Regions from separate parts of the Homo sapiens genome. Here region 1 is linked to region 2. Evidence: fine-mapped expression QTL. A gene starts in region 2. The other region holds a variant in brackets. All regions are shown on one strand. Distances are between the middles of the regions.

Region 1 (16,752 bases), 90 kb before region 2:
CAGCATTCAGTATTTGATGCAATTAAAGTTATAAAAACTCACCAAAGATTCACTCCAAATAAATAATTTTTTAACGTTTATCTTCTGCAAAACCTTTTAACTCTACTAGAGACACATAAAGTTTCCCAAGAAGTGTCTACTGAACTTTTTATTTATTTATATTTACTAGTATTTTTTTTTGAGATGGAGTTTCACTCTTGTTGCCCAGACTGGAGTGCAATGGCACAATCTCAGCTCACTGCAGCCTCCCAGGTTCAAGTGATTCTCCTGCCTGAGCCTCCCGAGTAGCTGGGATTACAGGTGCCCGCCACCACGCCTGGCTAATTTTGTGTATTTTTAGTAGAGATGGGGTTTCACCATGTTGGCCAGGCTGGCCTCAAACTCCTGACCTCAGGTGATCCACCTGCCTCGGCCTCTCAAAGTGCTCGGATTACAGGTGTGAGCCATCGTGTGTGGCCTGAACTTTTAAATCATTTTTTCTGGTCATTGAAAGCAGGACAATTTTATTTTATGTTGAGTTTTTCATGCAAATTACAGCACCTTAGAAAAAGACTAAATAATTCAAGGGAAATATTAAGTAATGAATAACAGGAGAGCGAAATAAAAATTAAACAATATAATCAAATGAAGAAGCATGTTTTCATCTAAGAATTAAGAATGAAAGCAGCGATGGTATTTAATTATTAATGAAAAATACATGAATGAAATGATATCATGGTAGCCAGAGTAAGCCTATCAAAAGTCATAACGGCAAATAGTTAAAGACTACAACCAGTTACAGAATCGTTCCAAGAACTGTTGCAACCTGTAAGTAAACAGCACAGACTCTACATGCCAGGGTTTGGCAAACTTTTTCTGTAAAGGTCCAGATAGTAAATATTTAAAGCTTTGCAGGCCATGAGGCCTCTGTCTAGTCAACTCTGCCATTGAGGGTCAAAAGCAGCCACAGACAATATATAAATGAATGAATGTGGCAATGTTTCAATGGAATTTTATTTATGGATACTGAAATGTGAATTTCACAAGATTTTCATACAGGAAATATATATTTTTTCAATCACATAAAAATGTTAAACACACACACACACACACACACACACAATTAGCTCTCAAGCTGAAAAAAAAAAAATTCTAGCTCCTTCACCACATATCTGTAACACTGGCACAGATCAGTACCACCAGAAGCAAAGCTCTGAAAACTAACAGTCCTGACTCATGGGAAAGGATTCATTGTGGTCAAAGTAATTCTTAGATCATAACTGCCCCAAAATAGGAAAGATCAAGCAGCTAACACTTTTTCGTTGTTGTTGTTTTGAGACAGAGTCTTGCTCTGTCACCCCGGCTGGAGTGCAGTGGCACGATCTTGGCTCACTGCAACCTCCACCTCCCGAGTTCAAGCAATTCTCCTGCCTCAGCCTCCCAAGTAGCTGGGATTACAGGCATGCACCACCACACCCAGCTAATTTTTGTATTTTTAGTGGAGACAGGATTTTGCCATGTTGGGCAGGCTGGTCTTGAACTCCTGACCTCAAGTGATCTGCCCACCATGGCCTTCCAAAGTGCTGTGATTACAGGTGTGAGCCACCGTGCTTGGCATTATAGCTAACGTATTTGTTAATTATGTTTTCTTTTTTTTTCCTTTTTTTTTTTCTGAGATGGAGTTTCACTCTTGTTGTCCAGGCTGGAGTGCAGTGGTGCGATCTTGGCTCACTGCAACCTCCACCTCCACCACACCAGGCTGTTAATTATGTTTTCATTTCTCCTGATTAAAAAGATTCTGCTTTAAGATTGTTGACTTCAAGAAGTTTCAGTATAAACCTTATGTAGACTTTCTCTCCCCAAAACTAAAATTATTCTAGTTATAAAAATGAGTTGGGCCGGGCGCAGTGGCTCACGCCTATAATTCCAGCTCTTTGGGAGGCCGAGGCGGGTGGATCGCCTGAGGTCGGGAGTTCAATACCAGCCTGACCAACATGGAAAAACCCCGTCTCTACTAAAAATACAAAATTAGGCGGGCGTGGTGGCACATGCCTATAATCCCAGCTACTCGGGAGGCTGAGGCAGGAGAATTGCTTGAACCCGGGAGACGGAGGTTGCAGTGAGCCGAGATTGCGCCATTGCACTCCAGCCTGGGCAACAAGAGCGAAACTCCGTCTCAAAAAAAGAATTAAGATCATGTACTCTTTTAAGACCTATGTATCCGTAACTAATACAAAATGTGTCCAAACCTTTTAACAAAGTTATACATTTTATACTCCAATAGCATGTAATGTAGCTTTTGAGCATTTATTTGCCTTTCCCTTTGCTTAATACCTGGTGATAAAATAGAAAATGGATTCTATGTCAGCATTCTTGTGGCACAGATTCAAATCACCAGGTGGTATTTATTAGATTTAGATTTCCATACTCCAATTCAACTATTGTAAATTAGAAATCATCATGATCCTTCAGCTGGGCATGGTGGCTCACACCTGTAATCCCACCCAGCACTTTGAGAGGCCGAGGTGGGTGGATCACTTGAGGTCAGGAGTTCGAGACCAGCCCAGCCAACATGGTGAAATCCTGTCTCTACTAAAAATACAAAAATTAGCCGGGCATGTTGGTGCACGCCTGTAATCCCAGCTACTTGGGAGGGTGAGGCAGAAGAATCACTTGAACCTGGGAGGTGGAGGTTGCAGTGAGTCAAGATCGCGCCACTGCACCCAAGCCTGGGCAACAGAGTGAGACTCCATCTCAAAAATAATAATAATAATAAAAAATAAGAAATCATGATCCTTATTTTCACAAGTTTGCAAATATGGGGCTCACAAGGAACTAGAGTTTAGAAACCATTGCCTTTAAATCTTTAAACGGTGGCCAGGTGTGGTGGCTCATCCCTATAATCCCAGCACTTCAGGAAGCCAAGGTGAGTGAATTGCTTGAGCTCAGGAGTTCAAGACCAGCCTGGGCCACATGGTGAAACCAAAATTAGCCAGGTGTGGTGGCTCATGCCTGTGGTCCCAGCTACTCGAGAGGCTGAGGTGGGAAGATCACTTGAGCCCAGGGGGCAGAGGTTGCAATGAGTCCAGATGGCACCACTGCACACAGCCTTGGCAAAGAGTGAGAACCTGTCTCAAAAAAGAAAAATTGTAATGGTTATGCACATTACTTAAAATGACCTATTTAAGGAATTCAGACATGTTACATGCAAAAATGATCACTGCTATAAATATACATTGCATTGAGAAAAGAGAAGCTGCCCTTGTTTTCAGATTTGTGTTTATATTGCATGTGTCCTAAGTGAGGGCGATCGTAGCGTACAGCTGGGCCAGCCGCCGTTGCATAAGTAAGGAAACTGGGTCCCCCTAGTGTTCAGTTCTCATAATGACTCTCGAAAGGTGCAGAACAAGAAAAGTGGCAAGAGAACTTACAACTTCGCTATCCGTGTAACAACTCACCCAAATCAAAATTACTTCAATGACTATCCGTTTCCTACAGGGAAAGTTAGACGGGAAACCTGATGCCCAGAACATTTCCCCAAATATTATTGAGAAAATACATATTGTGGCCATGTATTTGTGTCATTTATATGCCTTTCCAGCAACTCAAGAACAAGCACGCTAACTTCCCTAACAACTTATACACCCTGGAATTCAACCAAAACTTTAAGTACCTTCTCTGCATCGACACCTCCCATTCTTAGTCTCAACTTTGTCCCTGAGCTCCTGATTTACATCTGCCTGCATGGCAGGGCATGGATATAAACTAAGCATCTTCAACTTAAAATGTCCTCAGCAGAACTCTGGATCTTCCTCCTCAAACCCACTCCTCCACACATCCAATCGGCTCTCCTTTCTAAATATATCCAGGAGCTGACTGCTTCTGCCAACTGCATCAGGACCCTTGATCCAAGCCAATATCATCTTAGCTGGATTATTACAGTAGTCTTCTAGCTGGCCTGCCTGCTTCCACTCTTGCAACATGCCACCCCATCTTAATTTTCCATACAGTAGCCAGAGTAATCTTCTTACAGCACAAGTCTGACATAAATCCTTGGCAATGAGCCCTGCGTGAACTGCCCGATGGTATTTCTTTTCCCTCTGCTCCTGTTATACTAGCCCCACTGGCTTTTTTTTTTTTTTTTTTGAGATAGAGTCTCGCTCTGTTGCCCAGGCTGGAGTGCAGTGGCATGATCTCGGCTCACTGCAACCTCTGCCTCCCAAGTTCAAGCAATTCTCCTGCCTCAGCCTCCCAAGTAGCTGGGACTACAGGCACATGCCACCACGCCCGGCTAATTTTTTGTATTTTTAATAGAGACGGGGTTTCACTATGTTAGCCAGGATGGTTTCTATCTCCTGACCTCATGATCCGCCCGCCTTGGCCTCCCAAAGTGTTGGGATTACAGGCGTGAGCCACCACGCCCAGCCCCCCCACTTTTTTTTTTTTTTTGAGATGGAGTTTCACTCTTGTTGCCCAGGCTGGAGTGCAAAGGCACAATCTTGGCTCACTGCAACTTCTACCTCTGGGTTCAAGTGATTCTCCTGCCTCAGCCTCCCGAGTATAGCTGAGATTACAGGTGCCCACCACCATGCCTGGCTAATTTTTTTTTTTTTTTTTGTATTTTTAGTAGAGATGGGGTTTTGCCATGTTAGCCATGATGGTCTCAATCTCCTGAACTGGTGATCCGCCTGCCTCGGTCTCCCGAAGTGCTGAGATTACAGGTGTGAGCCACGACACCCAGCCTCTCTTATTGTTTCTGGAATTGTTCTTCTTGTTGCAAGCTTCAGGCTTTGGCATTTGTGGTTTCCTTTGCTTGGTACTCCCTTGCCTGAGATGTATATGCAGTGTGACCCTTCAATTTGATCACTTCCAAATGCTACCTCCCTAGGGAGGCATTCCTGTCTATCCTATTCAAAATGGTACTTGTTTCTATTTGTTTACTTTGACATTAGGTTATAACAGCATCCACTTTGGGAGGCTAAGGTGGGCAGACTGCTTGAGCCCAGGAGTTTGAGACCAGCCTGGTCAACATGGTAAAACTCCTCTCTACAAAAAGTACAAAAATTAGCCAGGTGCGGTGGCACGTGCCTGTACTCCCAGCTACTTGGGAAGCTGAGGCGGGAGGACCACTTGAGCCCAGGAGGCAGAGGATATAGTGAGCCAAGATCACACCACTGCACTCTAGCCTGGATGACAGAGCAAAACTCTGTCTCAAAAAAAATTAAAAATAAAAATAAAATAAAGCATCTGTTTACTCCTTGACTCTCTGTCTCATCCACTAGTGTATTAGGGTAGGAGTTCTTTGTTCACTGCTGTATTCCCAAGGCTTTGAGCAGGGCCTGGCACCCAGTAGGTGGTGCTCCATGAATATTGTTGAATGAAAAATACATGAATGAATGAGTTATAGACTTTTTTCCCCTTTAGTTACACAAGAGAAGAAAAAGATATCTATTGACAGTTACAGCTCAAGAGAGTCTTTGCTGCTATGAAACAGCTGGATAACCACAGGACACTGAAAGCACTGTGCCGAGAACCCACCGGTTCAGCATCTGAGGATGGATGGATCTCAGACTGCCCAGCAGTAGTGTACTACATGGGTGGGTCAGTTGTAAAGAAGAAAAAACTGATCCATGAGCAGACACTAAAGAAAACAGTGGGATGAAATCAATACTGGGTTAAGTATGGCAGTCTGTGAGTTTGAACATATTGCCCCAATAGATTTTGTTTTAACTATTTTCCAGTAGACATTTTTTTTCATAATGCTTTCTTTTAATGCCTCAACTAGTCGCAAGAGCTTTACTAAATATTGCAACTCTTGGCGGGGCACGGTGGCTCACGTCAGTAATCCCAGCACTTTGGGAGACCAAGGCAGGCAGATTGCTTGAGCTCAGGAGTTCCAGACCAGCCTGGACAATGTGGAAAAAATCCCATCTCTAAAAATTAAAAATAAAAAAAATACACCGGGCATGGTGGTGCACACCTGTAATCCCAGCTACTTGGGAGGCTGAGGTGGGAGGACCACTTGACTATGGGAGGTGGAGGCTCCAGTGAGCCGTGATCATGCCACTGCACTCCAGCCTGGGCAACAGAGCGAGACCCTATTTCATAAATAAATAAATATCGCACCTCTCTTTTTTTGGTACTAAGGCAGAACTGTACATAGACTGATTTCTCCAACTTTGAGCAACCCCAGATGGCTCTACTTGAACAGAAAAGAAATTGAAAGTTTAATCGTGTATAATCCCTTGTAAACAACCTGGGGGAAAAATGGTTAGGTTCTCGCCGGTGATATTTTACTTCAATGAGGTCATGTAGCACAGTGAAAATAACGAATAACTCAGCATTAGGGAGAATTGGGATCTGATCCCATTTTTGCCATTGGTTACATGACACGCAAGTTTACTCGGCTGCTGCAGGCTTGTGTCCTCATGCATGAAATGGACTAAACAATCTCCACATTATTAATGCTTTACGACTCCGCTTTCCAAAAATGGAAATGCATTTGAAGACAATACCAGGCCCTTGAAAATGAAGACGGGAGGGTAAAAAACAAGCTGCAACAGAGAACAGTATCAAGCTTTTAAAGAAACAAGTTAACACCGAAGCCAGAGGCCTTTAATGTAGACATTAAACGGTGTCTACATACACCCTTTCAGCTTGAATGTCAGCACCGGCTGTACTGACAGAAGATTTACATGACCTTTTCCTGAAATAAGCCTTCCTCTCCTAGTAACTCAATACCACGGGTACATTTTTCCAGGTACACTAGAGTTGGGTACTGCTCTAGAGCTGCACTGTCCAATACAGTAGCCACAAGCCACATGGGGCTGTTGAGCACTTGAAAATGTGGCCAGTTGGAAGTAAGACGTACTGCAAGTGTAACATACATACAGGAATTTGAAGACGGTAAAAAAAAAAAGGATATAAAATATTCAGCATTGATATTGATTGAAATAATATTTTGGATGCACTGGATTAAATAGAATATACTATTAAAATTAACTCCACCTGCTTCTTTATGCATTTGCTAATACGACTACTAGAAACATTAAGCTTACATAGGTGGCTTGTATTATATTTCTATTGGACGGTGCCATTCTAGATATCCGAATCTACAAAGTGACTGAGATTCAAACTCTTCAATGAAGCACTTTTTAAATGCTCTACTTGAGAATTAATTCCACTCACTGCTCTGCTGCCGTCGCGGTCCTGACTTTCCAAGGCTGTGCCCAGAGCGCGGCACACGTGGCTCTCACACAGGCAGGCCTGCACGGCACGCAGCAGTGGAGGAGGTTACCCTGGGTCGCCGACGCCAGGGGAAGCCAAGCGACCGACCCCACACTTCTGAGCCCCGCCGGGGAAGTCCCCGGGCGCGGAAACAGGTGGTGCGCCGGCGGTTCGCAGCTGCTGTGCCCGCTGGCCTGGGCGCAGCCGGGGACAGCGACGCGTTTCCTGCCCGGGAAGGGCCCGAGCGCAGGGCCGGCTATAGCGGTCCCGCAGCTGCCTGCTTCGATTTTAGCACTGCTGCTCCCTAGAGGGAGCAACGCGGCCCTCTGTCCCTCGTAGGGCTTGAAATGTAAATTATTCATATCAGGGGAATGTGTGCTTCAAAAAGCAAGCTGGACAAGAACCGACGGGTAATCCTCGCCAAATTCTTCTATTTAACCCTCACCATTAAAAGTCTGAGGCCTGAAAAATCTCTTGACTGGAGAGATATTAACTCCACAGGTAAACGGGATCAGGATCTACGACATAAATGAATCAAATTCACTGATTTCTAAGATTATTTAGACAGTAGAAAATTATTAATCCTTTTTATTAGTTCAATACTTCATTCAGCATTTGCAGAGCAAAATCTGCTTGGATTTATTTAGTGAAAATTATCTTCTAAAACTACAAAGATTTAACCACAGTACATAAAATTTAGTTGCAGTAGGCAAATTATATTTTTAAGCTGAACCCTAAGAAATTGTCCAAAAATATGTACAATAGTTATGCACAGCACTTATGATTGCTGAATAAATGCATCATATAAAATTTAGTTCAGTTTTTAGCAAGAGTGAACGATTTCTTAGATGATTTTTCTCCTGGTCTCATAGTGCAGAGTATTCACAAATGGACCTTATATCTTCTCCAGACAACCGTCATCCCCAATTTATTCACCTAGGCAAATCTTAGTTCAAAAGAGTTTGTGAGAAAGGCTGACCTACAGGACTAAAACCGTGCTTACATTGTAGGAAAATAAAAGAAAATGTAATCGAATGGACAATAATTTTTAAAGCACATTATTCAAGGAGGAATAAGCCCTGTAACAGAATCCATAAAACACCATGCTCCATC[A/G]GTCTCTTTTTGCTAACAGAATGACCAAGTATTCTCTCCAATTAATTTTAATAGCAAACCACCATTTCCTAAAATGACTTAAATGGGTTCAATCAAGTAGGAGAATGAATCCAAGGGAAACCACTGACTAGGGGTATAAAATGTGCCTTACATCATATTGCATACATCAAACAATCAAAGAATTTAGGCTTCAAATTACAAGAAAAAAAAATACCTTTAAGTCTTACCCTCAAGGTAAGATAGGAAAGTGGGAAATGCTGTCTGCTCACTGGCATTCCATAAAATATTCACTGTAATTTCTGGATTTCCAAGACACATCTATCTAGCAGAGGTGGTTTGTCAAGTCTGAGCTTTTCCACCTGTCCACCCCTGTAGCAATGGGGCTGATGTTCACAACCTGCAGACCATCATCAGCATTCATGGCACCCCGACAGATAACCCCATTAAACTCTCTCCCTGACTCAGGTAAACACTTCACAATGTGAGAAGGTGAGAAAGACATTATTACTGAAATAAACCTGAAAGCTGCTCTAAGTCTATAGAGAAAGTGTAACACTCACAAATATAAATACCATTACACACTATTTGTAAGATCCCTCATAAATGACTATGTTATAGCTGAGACCTGCAACGGAACTCCCACCACCAAATGTTGTGGTAGTGTAAGGACCATTGTTATTTTCACTTGCAAATATTCCTGAGAGGTCGTATTTTAAGCTGCTAAAAACTAAAACAGGAATAAGGTGACAACCAGCAAAAGAAAAAAAATGAGCTAATGCACTCGAGAGAGTAAGGAAGGCTCACGGAAGAGGAGGGCTGTGGTGATCAGAGTCCACGGACGTCCAAAAATGTGACTTGGCTGGCCCTAACAGAGGGGAGCAGCTCTTCTAAAAACAAAATCACCCCCTGGAAATTATGTTGGTTGGTTCCTTGGGGCATCTACAGTTCTTTTTCAAGTTATTTACTTGCTCATTACCGCCAGTCCCAGCTTTCTTGGGAGACCTAAACATATTTGGGGAATGGAAATAATGTGCTTGCTGCCACAGACCAGGCCAGTAAGATGAGAAGATAAAGAGTTTCTAGAGTTTTTATTATTCAAAATGAGTTTCATTTCAATTCAGGTACTTGAAAGAAGGTTCTAGTCTGTTACTTTGACACAGCACAAGATCAATAGTTTATTCTGATGAAGTATTCCACCCAAATGAAAGCATAACATGCAAGTAGTCATTTATTTCAATCACTCCTATTTGAAGGTCCTTATTTTTGGAGAACAGTCAGGCATTTTATTATCCACTCTTTCCATTCCTTAAAGGCTTCCTTCCACGGGTTTCAGTAAATTCCCATTATCCTCACGACTGTGTTCTGGAGTTGCTCCAGGTGTGCCAGAAGATTCATCATCAATCCACCTCACCAGTGCCTGGAAAAGCATTGAAAGATGCGCACTTCAACAAACCACAGCAAAATACCATCAGGCAAGAGAGAAGCATTGGCTTCTAGATCATAGGGTGACATATTACCCCATGAAGACGCTGCATTTGATAATGATGCTGTGAATATGAATAATGCTAATGATATACTGAGTGAAATGGCACGTACCAAATACACACAGAATTACAAATGATGTCAAAAGTACGCACTGAAAAAAGATGAAAAAGAAATACACTCATTCTTATACTTTGTTTCTAGCATGATAGGATATTTTTTCTCAACTTGCTGAATATTCTACAAGGCATTATATTAATTTGACATGTATGTATATACATATATAAGTGTCCACACAGGCATGGGTAGACATATGTATGTGAAAACACATGTGTAGACATTTCTGTGCAGTCACCTGAATGCAGTCATACCCATGAGTAAACACATGAATGTATATTGATGTTTGTGGGCAAGTGTGGGCACACACACACATACTGAGATTAGGTACTTTCCTTCTTCCTTTTTAAAGAAAATCACTTTTTTCCTCCTAATGAACATCATACCTCTGTCCCATATTTGGAAAGATAAATCCTGTCCTCACACTTATAGGGTTTAAAAAATGAACTTTGCCACACATATCAATATTTATTCAGTTTTGCAAAGTCAAGCTCTCTTGCCCTAAATGGAAGAGAAGCAGAAAATTTCTTCCACTATTTCTCATTGAACTGTAAGCATAAATCACTCTAAGGCAAGCTGAAGTTTTTAAGAAGGGCATTTCTTCGCATGTTTTTAAACCACAGCTTCCTGCTTATCTTTACACTAATTTCCTCTGATAAATTATAACTCTAGAGAAGGATATAATAGATACATCAGTTTGCTACTCAGATAACCACTTCCCCCTCTTTACACTATCCATCCCTCAACTTACTTTATATCTTTCTACAATGCTGAAGCCAATAACAGCACACTGCAACTTGTGCAAACAGATAGGGCAAAGGTTTAGAGGGCGCCGGTCAGCTTCTTCCAAGTGGAAGAAGCCCCAGATTTCCCTATCAAAATCCTTTGCTGCTATCCACCATGCCTTGTCTTGTAAAACTTAATGGGCTGGAGGTCAAATACTTGAGAAACTGAAGTTTCAGAGTCTTTTCCCACAAAAGAAGTCTTTTTCTGAAAGTAGCAAGTACTCCAAATCAAGTACTCAAAAAGGAACCACAAAAACTAATCACATGGGTCAGGCATGGTGGCTCATGCCTGCAATCCCAGCACTTTGGGAGGCCAAGGTGGGCGGATCACCTGAGGTCAGGAGTTCAAGACCAGCCTGGCTAACATGGTGAAATCCTGTCTCTACAAAAATACAAAAATTTGCCAGGCATGATGGTAGGCGCCTATAATCCCAGCTACTCAGGAGGTTGAGGCAGGAAAATGGCTTGAACCCGGGAGGCGGAGTTGCAGTGAGCCGAGATCCCGCCATTGCACTCCAGCCTGGCGACAGAGCGAGACTCCATCTCAATAAATAAATAAATAAATAAACAAATAAAATAAAATAAATCACATCAACAATAGGCAGTCATGATTTCACTCTTTAAGGACACGCTAAACAGATCTGTTACACGTGTGCCTGGAGGGGTTGCTGGCCTTCCCTCACGCAGCACTGACTGAGGACAACTGCCCTGATGTCTTGAAGCCCATGCTTTAAACCACGGCTTTAGACAGAATAACCTCGTCCCCTTCCCCACCCCCACCCCCTTTTTAAAGAGCAGCTCAACTCTATTCTGTCACTAGTGTCTGGTGACCAGAATAAATACCCTTGTAACTGACTTCCTGTGTTACATTTAGAGTTATATCAACCATCTCTGCAAGCACAGAGAACACGGTTTGCTACGTAACTCACCCTACAGGGTACTGCTTCACAATTCGACTTGTTTACATGATCACTTTTATTTATGTCTCTCGTTCAGTTTTTATTTTAAAGTAATAAATTTTTAAAGAAAATAACCCATGGTAGGTTTGTTCAATCTAATTTGATTCAAAAACAACTTCCTCACCTCCCTTTACCCAGAAAATGTGGACTGATATTCGAAAATTAGGGAAAATAGCATTCTAGAAGTTAAGAAAACACTAAATCTATTCATGTATCACAAGTAACCCCCTCTGGCCAATCAAGTGTGAGCATATTTCACTACAGTAATACTTTCAGCAAGGACATTTCTTTCTTCCAATAATCCTACAAATAGAAGATTATTTTCTTTCGTAGTCAATGCTTCTCAATTTAAAAATATGAATCTTTGTAAACTTGGAGAAAACAAGACCACTGTGTTAAGATATTGTCACTGTCTAATCCTGCCACTTTCCTATGTAAATCTTTCATGTCATGTAATATTTAAGAAACTTACAAAAAAAAGAATTAAAGTAAAAACAGTTTGGGGAAATGTTTCCTGACCTCCTCAAATACATAAGATAAGTTAGCTAGTAATATCTAGATAAACGAACATATGGTTTGAAAATTATTTTTTTAGCTGGGTGTGGTGACTCACACCTTTTATCAAAGCACTTTGGGAGGCTGAGGTGGGAGGCTCGCTTGAGCCCAGGAATTCAAGATGAGCTTGAGCAACACAGGGAGATCCCATCTCGACAAAAAAAATAAAATAAAATAGCTGGGTGTGGTGGTCCTGTGGTCCCAGCTACTCAGGAGGCTGAGGCGAGGCAGGAGGATCCCTTCAGCCCAGGAGGCTGAGGTTGCAGTGACCCATGATCAGCCTGGGTGATAGAGGGAGACCCTGTATCAAAAGAAAAATGAAAGGTAGATAAAATTAATTTTTAATGTTTCCGTCTCTATCAGGTTAATAATAAGAGAGAAAACTTATGATAAAAAGCTACCTCACACCACCAAAATCAGTAAGAGAGTAGTGACCCACGTCTCCAAGACTGCATGTTGGTAGGGCCATGGGGGGCCACAAGTAAACCTCACATAAATGGAGAATAAAGAATAAACGAGTAAGTGGGAAGAGGCTCTATAGCCCTACAGCCCCCACCTCTAGTAGAAACATTTGTCCCAAAAAGCTTACCACCCCACACAAATCCTAAGGCTAATGTAACATCCAGACAGACCATAAACTCTCAGGATAGTCCCTGTACTTACTCCCCATCCCCAGAACACTAATGAACCACTCCCCTTAGGGGGCCTTTTCCCTTTCAAGTCTGTCTTGGATTATTGGGGATGAAGTTAGAGAAGTAAGAGCAAAAATGAAGGGGAGGGGAGAAGTAGAGAGATGACAAAAAAAGGTTAAAAATATAACCTGTTTCGTGAACCTTTCCCATCCCCAATATTACCATGCAGAGTTCCTAATGAGTCAATGTTTACTATGTATCTCAAATCAAAGATGGAAGTTTTTACTTTTTAAATTAAAAAACAAACAAAAAACAAATGTCGTATGATGAGAAAGAAGCAACACTTAGTCTATGGCTATCCTAACTGTGCAAGATGACTATGAAAAGAATTGAAAAACAATTAGCAAGATTTTCACATCCATTAATGATAGCTCAAACTGTAATTGGCTTAATTCACCTTGCTACTGAATTACTGACGTTTACTAGCTGTTATGCTGAATGCCTATATATGTGCCAGGCCTATATATGCTTTTTTTTTTTTGAGACACGGTCTCAATTTATTGCCCAGGCTGGAGTACAGTGGTGCGATCACGGCTCACTGCAGCCTCAACCTCCTGGGCTCAAGCAATCCTCTCGCCTCAGCCTCCTGCATAGCTAGGACTACAGGTGTGTGCCACCATGCCCAGCTAATTTAGTTTTTTTAATTTTTATTTTTTGTAGACATGTAGTCTCACTATGTTGTCCAGGCTTATCCACACTTTTTATGTACAGGCACTTTTATGTAAATTATCTCCAAATGACTCCATGATGTGGGTATTGTTACCTTTAAGGTCCTGTAGGTAGTGAGTGGCCAACCAGAACCTAGATTATCACAATCTACCAACAGCACACTTCCCATTATGGCATAATGTCTCAACTGAAAATACTATAGTTTTAAATATCAATATGATTCTTGGTTGGAATTTTTTTCCCTCTTTTAACATCTTCAAATATTCTCAAGTTGAAGAAGCTTCTAACAACAATGCCAAAAACGGAATACCATCTGTCAAAGAGGCCTGTCCAAAGACAAAATTCCACAAGTCTCTTGGGTAAAGATCAATCATTGTTATTCCCACAACACAGAAGGCATCTTCAGGTTTCTTCTTTTTCAAGAACTTCAGGATGTCCCCTATTTAAGAAGAAATACATAAATGTATGAGTGTATATTATATACATATGCTTCCTTTACTCAGTTCAAATTGCAAAGTTGTGTAATTCACCTGCATGAATTTGTAGGTTTTGTGTGTTCTCATTGACTCTAAAGGAACACCTTGTTGTAGAAACAGGAACTGGTTCTAGCAGTTTTACTCTCAAGCGATAGAAATATGCTTTACAGTAGCCCGTGAGCCATTTAATATATTCTTCACTGATAATTCTGGTGCTTCATAGAGATCCTATAATATGGAAGAACATTTAAAAACAGACTTTAAGACGATTATTCAGTGTTTACCCAGTCTATGAGTAAGAGGATTCAAATTAGAAACAAAACCAACTCTAAATTTTCAATACACCTTTAACATTCATCGGTGTTGATATGAATTAAAAAAAAATGTTCTAGGTCTGTTTGGCTACAAAACTTGTACCATTGCAATGAATATCAAAAATGATCCTAAAATGGCCCATCTGAATCAGACCAATAGCCCGGACTATTCCTGACAACAGAACCATTGCAAAACCGAACCAAAACTAGCACATTACCAGTATTTACCAATGGACCGTATATAAATACTGCGTTTGTCTGGAGAGGGTATCTTTCTGTAAGGATGACTGAAGAACTGTTCAAAGTCTTGGGGGGCCTCAGGGTGGGAGGTGATCCAATCTGATGGAGAATGCAAGGTCCAAAGAGATCACTGGCTGGCTGGAATGCTTCATTCATTAAACGCTGTTCCCCAGCATCTACTTTCTCATACTGTGACACAAGCACTGGATTCTTTGAGATGACAGCTATTTTTAGTGTCTGTTCGGAATACCGTACTATTTGCATCTAACAAAAAAATACAAGCAGTCAAATATAAAAATACATATCCATATTGGGGACTTTACCTATTCTCCATATACAGCTCTGATTTCTCCCTAGAGTGAAATGACTGACTGCTAATGCTTTAGAGTGGTCACACTTAGAGTGGTTTCCTCATGTCCAATCAATTTCTTGGGGACCTAAGAAATTACAAAGACAATCATGAAATCCATTCCTCCATCTCATATGGAACCTGCTCCCATTACAAAAACTAGTGGTGGCCAGGCGTGGTGGCTCATGCCTGTAATTTCAGCACTTTGGGATAGGAGGACTGCTTGAGGCCAGGAGTTTGAGAACAGCTTGGGCAACATGGTGAGACCCTGTCTCTACAAAAAACTTAAAAATTCCCTGGGCATAGTGGTGCACACCTGTGGTCCTAGCTACCAGGGAGGCTGAGGTTGCAGTGAGCCATGATCGTGCCACTGCACTCCAGCCTGGGCAAGAGTCCAAAACAAACAAAAAAATCTCATGGTGACCATAGGAGCAGGACCTCACACCCAATTTCCTTCTTTTGGGGAATAATATTGGCCTGGCATGGTGGCTCATGCTTATAATCCCAGCACTTTGGGAAGCCAAGGCAGAAGGATTACTTGAGCCTAGGAGTTTGAGATCAGCCTGGGCATCATGGCAAAACCCCATATCTACAAAAAAATTAGCCGGGCATGGTGGTGTGCACTTGTAGTCCCAGCTACTTGGGAGGCTAAGGTGGGAGGATCATCTGAGCCCAGGAGGTCGAGGCTGCAGTGGGCTGTGATCGTGCCACTGCACTCCAGCCTGGGCAACAGAGACTTTGTCTCAAAAAATCATATTATGAATTAACTCATTAGTGCCACATGAAAAATACTCCTCGTTTCTAGTGTGACTCAAAGATCTTCAACATCAAATAAAAACAAAACTAATGTAAGCCCTATCATTTCTGCAATTTAACTGCAGGCTGAGAAGCTACGGCTTAGTCACATCACATTAGGGAAGACATCAGATGACTAATCAAAAGCCAGACTCACAATGACAGGTTTCTTCCATTCACATCGTGTTCCTATGTAGAGTTTTCATCCTTCCTCTTGAAAAGGGTCAGATGTTCCACCACGAGACTTTTTGAATTACACAAGGAAAAACCTGAACATCTCTGTCTGGATCATCTCTGTCATATTTTCTAATTATCTAGATTTTGCCAGTTTAATGATAGACAACTGATGGGAAAACTTAAGCTAATGTCTGTTCTGATTGAACCTCTGAATTCTGGGGTTGAAGAGGCTGGCTGAAATTCCAGATCAAATGTCTCTGTACTCAAAGCTCTGATAAGAGCATAAGCTCATCCTCACTCCTACACAACTGGGCTGAAATCTGACTTCTACAGGACAAAATATAAAACCAGATGTACCTTCCAGTGGTCTACCTACCTTGATTAGGAAGGAAGGCTCCCATGGAAGCTTTTATCTCACAAGGACAGACATGTCTGGGCCTGGCCAGAAGGAAGTTGTGGAGTGTGCCTTCATCTTTATATTAACGAAGGCAGTGAGAAAAGTCAGGAGGCCTCCCCTTGCCTCCCAAGCCTAATCTAGGGAAGCTGCGGGAGAAGATGGGCAGGGGGCGCACAATATGGTCACTGTGGTGGGCTGGAGGCCTGGGACGCTGTGGTCCCAAAACCAGAACATCTCGGGCCAACCGGGAGAAGTTGGCCACCCTAGCTGGTTGCCTACAGCAACTCGCACTGTGGGCTCTGGTCCGTGCAGGCACAACCCAGGCTCCGGCTGGGGGTGGAGTAGGGCTTCCCCGGGGACTCTCGCTTCGCCTCTTCTTCCCCCAGGAGCCTCTGGAAAGGCCTCCCTGGCTCCCCAGAGGCACTC
Region 2 (8,000 bases):
TCCAAATTGCACACAGTCTAGATTTCTATCACTGCTGGAATCTTTCTGATCTTTGGCAAATAAAACCCAATCACAGCATTCACAGTTAAATTACAAAACACTTGATTAAAAATTTGTTTCAACTGTATTCTGTATCTTTAACCTGGATTGGATACTTTTATTCCAAACCTGTCTTCAATGCTGTGTAACAGCTACAAAGCATTTTATGGGTAGTCTCGTTAAAGAAAAAAGGGGAAAAATGCCTGGCACAATGCCAGCAATTTGGGAGGTCAAAGTGGGCACATTACCTGAGGTCAGGAGTTCAAGATCAGCCTGGCCAACATGGCGAAACTGCCTCTACTAAAAAGACAAAAATTAGCTAGGTGTGGTGGCACGCGCCTATAGACCCAGCTACACAGGAGGCTGAGGCAGGAGAGTTGCTTGAACCCTGGGGGCAGAGGTTGCAGTGGGCCAAGATCACACCACTGCACTCCAGCCTGGGCAACAGAGACTCCGTCTCAAAACAAACCCCCCAAAAACAAAAAAACAAATTTCTGAGGCTATAATTTTGGATAGATACATTAAATTATGGAAGTCAGTGAAAAAAGTGTGCTAAAATCAGATACAGGTTGAGTGTCCCTTATCCGAATGCCTGGGACCAGAAGTGTTTTGGATTTTGAATTTTTTCAGATTTTTGAAATATCTGCATACATATGAGATATGCTGGGAATGGGACTCAAGTCTAAACTAGAAATTCATTTATGTTTCATATATACCTTAAGATATGTAGCCTAAAGGTAATTTTATACACTATTTTTACACGTAGTCATTAGAGACTAGGACACATTAGGTCTGTGCCTTAGCCTTTCAGTCTGTTCCTCCATCTCAAATACTTTTAGATTTGGGAACATTTCGAATTTTCGCATTAGGGATGTGCAACCTGTATTACTAAACATCATTAAAATAAAACCACACGTTTTAAAAGAGCAAATCTCTTACCAGTTGAAATTCTCGACGCCGGTCATAGGCATTCTGTATGCCGCTGTCTGCCCATAATGCTCTTATAGCAGGAAGATATTGTAAGAAAACCCTTGTTTCCACCATTCCTTGGGCTGCCATGGGGGCCCGGGTATCAAACGACATCATCTTATCTCCATGTTGTTGGTTTGAGTTGTCTCCCCAGGGAATATGAAGCTTCTCTCGAGCATCAACCAGCACCCTCATACCTTTGTTTAAAAAGAAGAAAAAAAATGTATGGAGAGGAGTCATTACATATTATCATAAGTTTTTATTCCAGTATTATTTCCTTATACTTCTGAATTAACCTAGACAAACCTTCTTCAAAAATGAAGACCAACATCGAAAACAAATGTAACTTCTCAGAGGTTAAAAAAAATAACAGTTGCTCACTGTCTTAAAATTAGAGCCTTGAAAAGCAAATACTATTAGCACAATTCCTCTCTCTGAAGGATTTTTAACATGTTCCAATTTATAAAATAACTTCTAGGATAGAAGGTAGTCAAAAAACAATCTAACTCAAGAAAGAAAAAGAAGTTATGCTGCACAGACCAACAATGTCCAAGCTCAGAAGAAAACAGACACAACCAAGGTTTTATGAGCCTAAAAGATGTTCATTTATGAAACACTAAGAACCAACTACTATAGCTCCATGTTCTGTTTGTTGCTTCGGCACCCTAACCCAACATTGAGTCTTCTAGCAACACATTCAAAATTTAAAAACTTCTTCCAGCCCAAGTTTCAATCCAGTTTAAGTTACAGGATGGCCTTCAATTTCCCTAAAAGGGAGGAAGATCAACTGCAAAATAATACAAAGTCGGACTCCAACTCACAGAGGTTAGTTGAAACTCATTTTTCCTATCACTGATCTATTACTTTTATTAAGTTTGATCAATCTGAACAGTCACTTGGCTATTAGGAAGTCATCTGAATAACTGAAAAACGGGTGGGGTTTTTTTGTTTTTGTTTTTTAATAGAGACGAGGTCTGGCTATGTAGCCCAGCTGGTCTGGAACTCCTGGGCTCAAGCCATCCTCCCACTTTGGCCTCCCAAAGTGCTGGGATTGCAGGAGTGAGCCACCACGCCCAGCCTGAGAAACTGTTCTACTGTCAAATTTCATGTCAACTTGAAAAAACTAGATTCCTGATGACTTACATCATCTCATAATCAATGCTCAACGTAGATCACACTTACAACTCAGTGTACATTAAGAACGAGGTGTTTACCAGGCTCACAGTCAGTTAACATGTTGATGCTATTCATTAACATAATTCCTTAAGTTCAGCTGCATCAGGTTACAAAGGTACCTTCAATTAAGGACTGTCAAGGCAGAGTCTGCAGCCTTGAAAGAGACCTTAATTAGTTTTGAGCTAAACATTACAGCAGGATAAATACAACTGTTCTTTATAGTTTAACTGCAGAGGTACTAGGGCTAGAGCTGGCTGTGGTCTAGTGATTCTCTCTAATTCATTACTCCATAATGCCTGGCTCTTCAGGCAGTTTTCCTTTACCCAAACGCTGGAAGCTCGGGAGGCGGTTGGCGGGGAGGGGGCGGGGGGGTGACATGCAGAAGTCCCTTATGTACTTCCTGAACAAAAATCCCACTTAAAAAGACCTGCAATCTGTAGCAAACTCCTAAACTGCTCCCCAGATAAAATAAAATCCAGATGCACCTGAGTTACCAGGCGCTGCACCTAAATTTTGCCAAAATGCCTTTTCTATAGAACATACTTGACACGCAGAAACGAGTGTTAATTATCTTTCAAATGACAAAATAAAAACCATCTTTTCGATTTCTTTGAATGCCCAGAAATAAACAACTTGTTTATTTTTCACTTAAGAACAAAGTTTAATTTTAAAACTACTGTCAATAAAGAGCCGAGCCAATTATCTAACTCAACACTCATTCATTGTCTCCATCTGTACAGGATCCACATGACTTTTAGGCCAGTCTTCTTACTACTACATTTCATCTAAATAGAAGCAGTGGTACTCCCTTCCTGCCAGCCCCCAGTTACTTAGCGAAAAGGAGAGTGGAACGTGTTGCACAGAAATCACACGCAAACATCCTACCTGACCGTGACACTGGGGCGAAAAAGCACAGATGCTACATTTTCATGCTAACTGTATGGGTCCACTCTCTCCTGATTCCAGTACAGTCAACCTGACACTCCTCAAGTTTCATATTCTCGCCCAAAAGGAGGCTGTCACCCTACGCCCTTGACAAGAAGTCTCGGGCAAAAAGTTCCCTTATTGCGACGGTTCCAGAACTCGCTTGCTTAGGAGACGGCCAAGGAAGCAGGGAGTTGGGAGCGCATGCGACCCCATGTGACTCGGGTCACCCAGCCAGGGTAGCGAGGTTCGGCCCACATCGCCCGAGCAGGGGATGGGGGTGAAGCGGCTAGGGCTGCTATTGGTGTTCCTGCCTCATCCGCAGCGGGGAGGACAGGAGAGGTCTGCCCACACCCCGAGGCAGCACCCAGCTCGCCCCACTTCCCTCTCGCAGGGGGAGAGACCAGGACGCGGTGGGGGGTGGGGGAATGGCCGTGACGCCCACCGGGGAGACAAGCGGGAGAGCAGGGCGACCCCGAGCATCCTCTCGCCCTGGGGCGCGAGGGCACCCCGGGCGGGCAGGGCCAGTTGCCGGGGCGCGCCCCCTTCCCGCCAGCCCGCCCGCCGGGCCCGTTCCTTCGCCAGCGACACAGCGGACCAGGGCGGTGCCCCGCCCCGCACCCGCCGCCGCCCCAGCCCCCCTGCCCTTAACCCCCGGCCCCCATTCCCGGCCCGGCACCTTTGATCACGTTGCTGTAGATGGTGGGGCGGAACTCCTCGCGCGCGCGCTGGTCGAAGTCCTGCCCGTGGATGATCCGCATCTGCTTCAGGAAGGTGGACTTGCCGCTCTCGCCCGCGCCCAGCAGCAGGATCTTCACCAGCCGCTTCACATAGGTCTTTTCCCGAGACAGGCATTTGTCGATCTCCTTGGACTTGCGTTGCTGCTCGGCCTCGCCACTCGTCAGCAGGCAGCCGGGGAAGCACACGGACAGCACGGACCGCGACGGCAGGAAGTCCGCCATCTTGCCGCCGCCGCCGCCGCCTCGGCGGGCCCCTCCGGCTCCCTCCACCTCCTCCTCCGGCGGCGGGCGGCTCCGGCACCGAGGCTCGAGGGCGGGGAGCGCGGCGGCGGCCCGAGCGCGCCCAGGGAGGGAGGGAACCAGCGAACTGACTCGCAGGGCGGGCCGGGCAGGGCGGGCCAGGACAGCGGGGGAGGGAGGGAGGGAAGGAGGGCGGGCCCGGCCCCGGAGGGGCGGTGGCCCCGGAGCGTGCGCGCTCCCGCTGCCTCCCGGAGGCGCGCTCGCACGCCGCGGCCGCTTCTCCGCCTCCCGCCCTGGGCGGCGAGTCACGAGCTCGATGTGTCGCTCGGGTGCCCGCGCCCGCAGCCGCGGCCGGGCGCGCGGGGAGGGCTGAGGAACCGCGGTCACGTGGGCCAGGCTGGGGAGCCCGACTTTCTGTTTCCCTTTCATGGCCTGAGCCCACTTGTGGGCAGAAGGGCTCCTTCCCCAAGGCCGGGAGGCCGGAGACCAGGTCCCGGACGCGGTTCTTTGGGCTCCCACTTAGCCTCCCTTTCTCCCGCGTTGCGCGCCCGCTGCCCGCTGTCACCGCCCACCCGACCCATTTCGAGGCCACGGACTCGAAAGTTATTCGAACAGAACAGCCGGCGTGAGCCTGGCAGGCCTTTGGTGCATTTTCTTTATTTCATTTTATTTTTTCTCTTTTGAGACGGAGTCTCACCCTGTCGCCCAGGCTGGAGTGCATTGGCTCGATCTCGACTCACTGCAACCTCCGCCTCCCAGGTTCAAGCCATCCTTCCGCCTCAGCCTCCCGAGTAGCTGGGAGTACAGGCGTGTGCCATCATACCCGGCTAAATTTTTTGTATTTATTTTTAGATACAGGGGCTCCCCCCTATGTTGCCCAGGCTGGTCTCGAACTCCTGAGCTCAAGCGATCCTCTAGCCTCGGCCTCCCACAGTGCGGGGATTCCAGACAGAGCCACCAGGCCCAGGCCTGGTGTGTTTTCTTAAAGTGACTCCCTTGACCTTCTAGTCTCCGAATCCCAGAACGGTAACCAGACGTCGTCCACCCCCACTTCCAGCTCTTTCTGGCATTTTCAGACCCCTACCAGGGCTCTCTGTGAGGGGAAAGAACTGGAGTTGATGTTCACTTGAGACGTGCTACCAGGGGCATTTAATGGCTCACTCGTGCATTCCACCTGGGCTGTGATGTGACTTCAGGGACGCTTGGCCGCGCCGGAATTAGCGAGTGGCAGCAGGAGGGTGAGGTCATGGTGAAAATCCCCTACACCGGACACTGTGATGTAGGCTCTTCCCAACAAGGAAGCAGATACACAAACACAACGAGGAATGGGAGCACGCAAATTTTAGCTTTCCTGCCAGATTACAGAGGATATGACCCGTCCAGGGACTTTTTTTCTGTCCTAACAGCAGATTCAGGCCAGGACACCTGAAAGGAGGCCAGGAGACAAGCCACAAGTGACAGCTGTGGGTTGGCAGAGAAACTGCTTAACCGGGACCCCCGAGAGCCGACCTCTTCATTCTTAGTATTTAGTTTCAAGTGGAAAAAGCCACTTTGGTCTGTCCCTGTTTTGGGCAATGCAACGTAGCTTTGGGCTCCTGTGGCTCAGAAACTTCGTATGTATAAGGGAGCGGAGGTAAGAGGTCAGCATTCCAAGAAACTCCCGAACAGGTTTAAATTTTAAAATCGGTACTAATCAGTTACTCCCTGGGGTTGGGTTAATGACCGAGAAGCCTCGACTCAGTAGATTGGCTGCAGTAAACAATGCCTGTAGTAGGATTATCTCCTGTGGCTCTGGCAAGCCCAGAGGGTGGACAACCTACAATATACAAGTAGAGTAGGCTCACCTCCAATATCTGTGGATTGATAAGAGTCAGAATCACTGAGCAGTGCTGTCAGGCAAAATATATGGTAAAAGCCTGCCCTGGATGGAGAATTTTTCCATCATCTCATCTAGTGTTTGGGAGGCCCTGTTCTCTAACCATGCAAGGACTCGCCTCTCCCAGGATTGGGGCATAGAACCTGTCCCCGAGCACTGTTTCTGCATTGACCCCAGGTGCTAATCTGAACTCCAACAAAGAGGAGAGAAACTTGTAAGTTAGGTAGTTAACATCTTTTTTCAGAAGTGTGTGTAATATAATGGAAAACCAAGAATGCCTAGGAGGCAGGAAGGTATTCCTGCCCAGCCAGTTCATGTCGTGACATGCAGAGCAGCAGAGAAAGCTGTTTAAAGCCCTGCGTGTAAGCTTGCCTTGGAACAAACTTGGCTCACATCAAGTCTGGCTGTTCTAGTCAGTGTAGTTTTTAAAAAGAGACCTCTTTGACCTGAAAGTCAAATGAAGGAAGAAGAAGAAGAAGGAGGAAGGAGGAAGGAAGAAAGAAAGAAAAAGAAGGCCGGGCACAGTAGCTCATGCCTGTAATCCCAGCACTTTGGGAGGCTGATGCAGGCAGATGACTTGAGCCCAGGAGTTCGAGACCAGCCTGGCCAACATGGCGAAACTTCATCTCTACTAAAAATACAAAAATTAGTGGGGAGTGGTGGTGGGCGCTTGTAGTCCCAGCTACTCGGGAGGCTGAGGCAGGAGAATTGCTTGAACGTGGGAGGCGGAGGTTGCAGTGAGCCGAGATCAGGCCACTGCACTCCAGCATGGGTGACAGAGTGAGACTCTCTGTCTCAAAAAAAAAAAAAAAGAAAAAGAATGAATGAATGAAAGAAAGAAAAAGAGACCTCTTTGGGTCCAACCTAGGGGTTTGGCTGCAGCTGTCCAGCTTCTTCTAACTGGTGATCAAGACACCTTGTAAATTGTAAACATAAAAATGAGTTAGAGACTTGGTGGTTTCTCAAAGAGGTGAACATAGAATTGCCATATGACCCAGTAATTTTATCCTGGGTATACCCCCCAAAATACTAAAAAGAATTGAAAACAGTGTTCAAACAAAAACTTGTATACCCACGTTCATGGCAGCACCATTTATGGTAGCCAAGAGATTAGCCGGCTGCAGTGGTTCACGCCTGTAATCCAAACACTTAAGCCAGGAGTTTAAGAGCAGCCTGGGCAACATGGTGAAACCCTGTCTACAAAAAAATATATAAAAAGTAGGGGAAGGCGGTGTGCACCTGTGGTCCTAGCTACTCAGAAGGCTGAGGTGGGAAAATCGCTTGAGTCCAGGAAGCGGAGGCTGCAGTGAGCCAAAATTGCACCACTGCACTTCAGCCTGGGGAACAGAGCCAGACCCTGTCTCAAAAAAAAAAAAAAAAAAATAGCCAGATGTGGTGGCACATAGCTGTAGTTCTAGCTACTCAGGAGGCTGAGGCAGGAAGATTGCTTAAATGCAGGAGCTCAAGGCTACAGTGAGCTATGATCATGCCACTGAACTCTAAGTCTGTGTGACAGAGTGAGACCCTATCTCTAAAAAACAAGACACAAAGAGGGGAACAACAGACACTGGGACCTACTTGAGGGTGGAAGGCAGGAGGAGGGAGAGGATTAAAAAAAAAATACCTGGTCGGGTGCAGTGGTTCACACCTGTAATCCCAGCACTTTTCGGAGGCCGAGGCGGGCGGATCACCTGAGGTCAGGAGTTTGAGACCAGCCTGGCCAATATGATGAAACCCCATCTCTACTAAAAATACCAAAAATTAGGCGGGCATGGTGGCACGCGCCTGTAATCCCAGCTCCTCAGGAGGCTGAGACAGGAGAATTGTTTGAACCTGGGAGGCGGAGGTTGCAGTGAGCCGAGATCACGCCATTGCACTCTAGCCTGGGCAGCAAGAGCGAAACTCCGTCTCAAAAACCAAAACAAAACGAAACAAAACAAAAAACATATCGCATACTATACTTATTACCTGAGTGACTAAATAATCTGTACACCAAACTCGAGATGAGCAGTTTACCTGTATAACAAACCTGCATA

Evidence for each region. PIP is the estimated chance that this variant, and not a neighbour inherited with it, causes the effect.
Region 1: its variant is fine-mapped to the expression of GNA13 in whole blood (INTERVAL, PIP above 0.99).

The regions. Positions count from the first base shown.
Region 1 is chr17:64,958,646-64,975,397 of GRCh38, forward strand. It overlaps LOC107985000 (a long non-coding RNA gene), which reads right to left and starts at 4,119. Exons shown (of 3, transcript XR_001752973.3): 1 at 1-4,119. It also overlaps the pseudogene AMZ2P1. RefSeq lists an enhancer at 7,159-7,208 and silencers at 7,428-7,591, 15,766-16,060, 16,610-16,752. The variant A/G (reference allele first, on the strand shown) is at 8,320.
Region 2 is chr17:65,052,524-65,060,523 of GRCh38, forward strand. GNA13 (G protein subunit alpha 13) reads right to left here and starts at 4,217. Exons shown (of 4, transcript NM_006572.6): 1 at 3,788-4,217; 2 at 979-1,205. The coding sequence starts at 4,070. RefSeq lists silencers at 3,455-3,714, 3,995-4,504.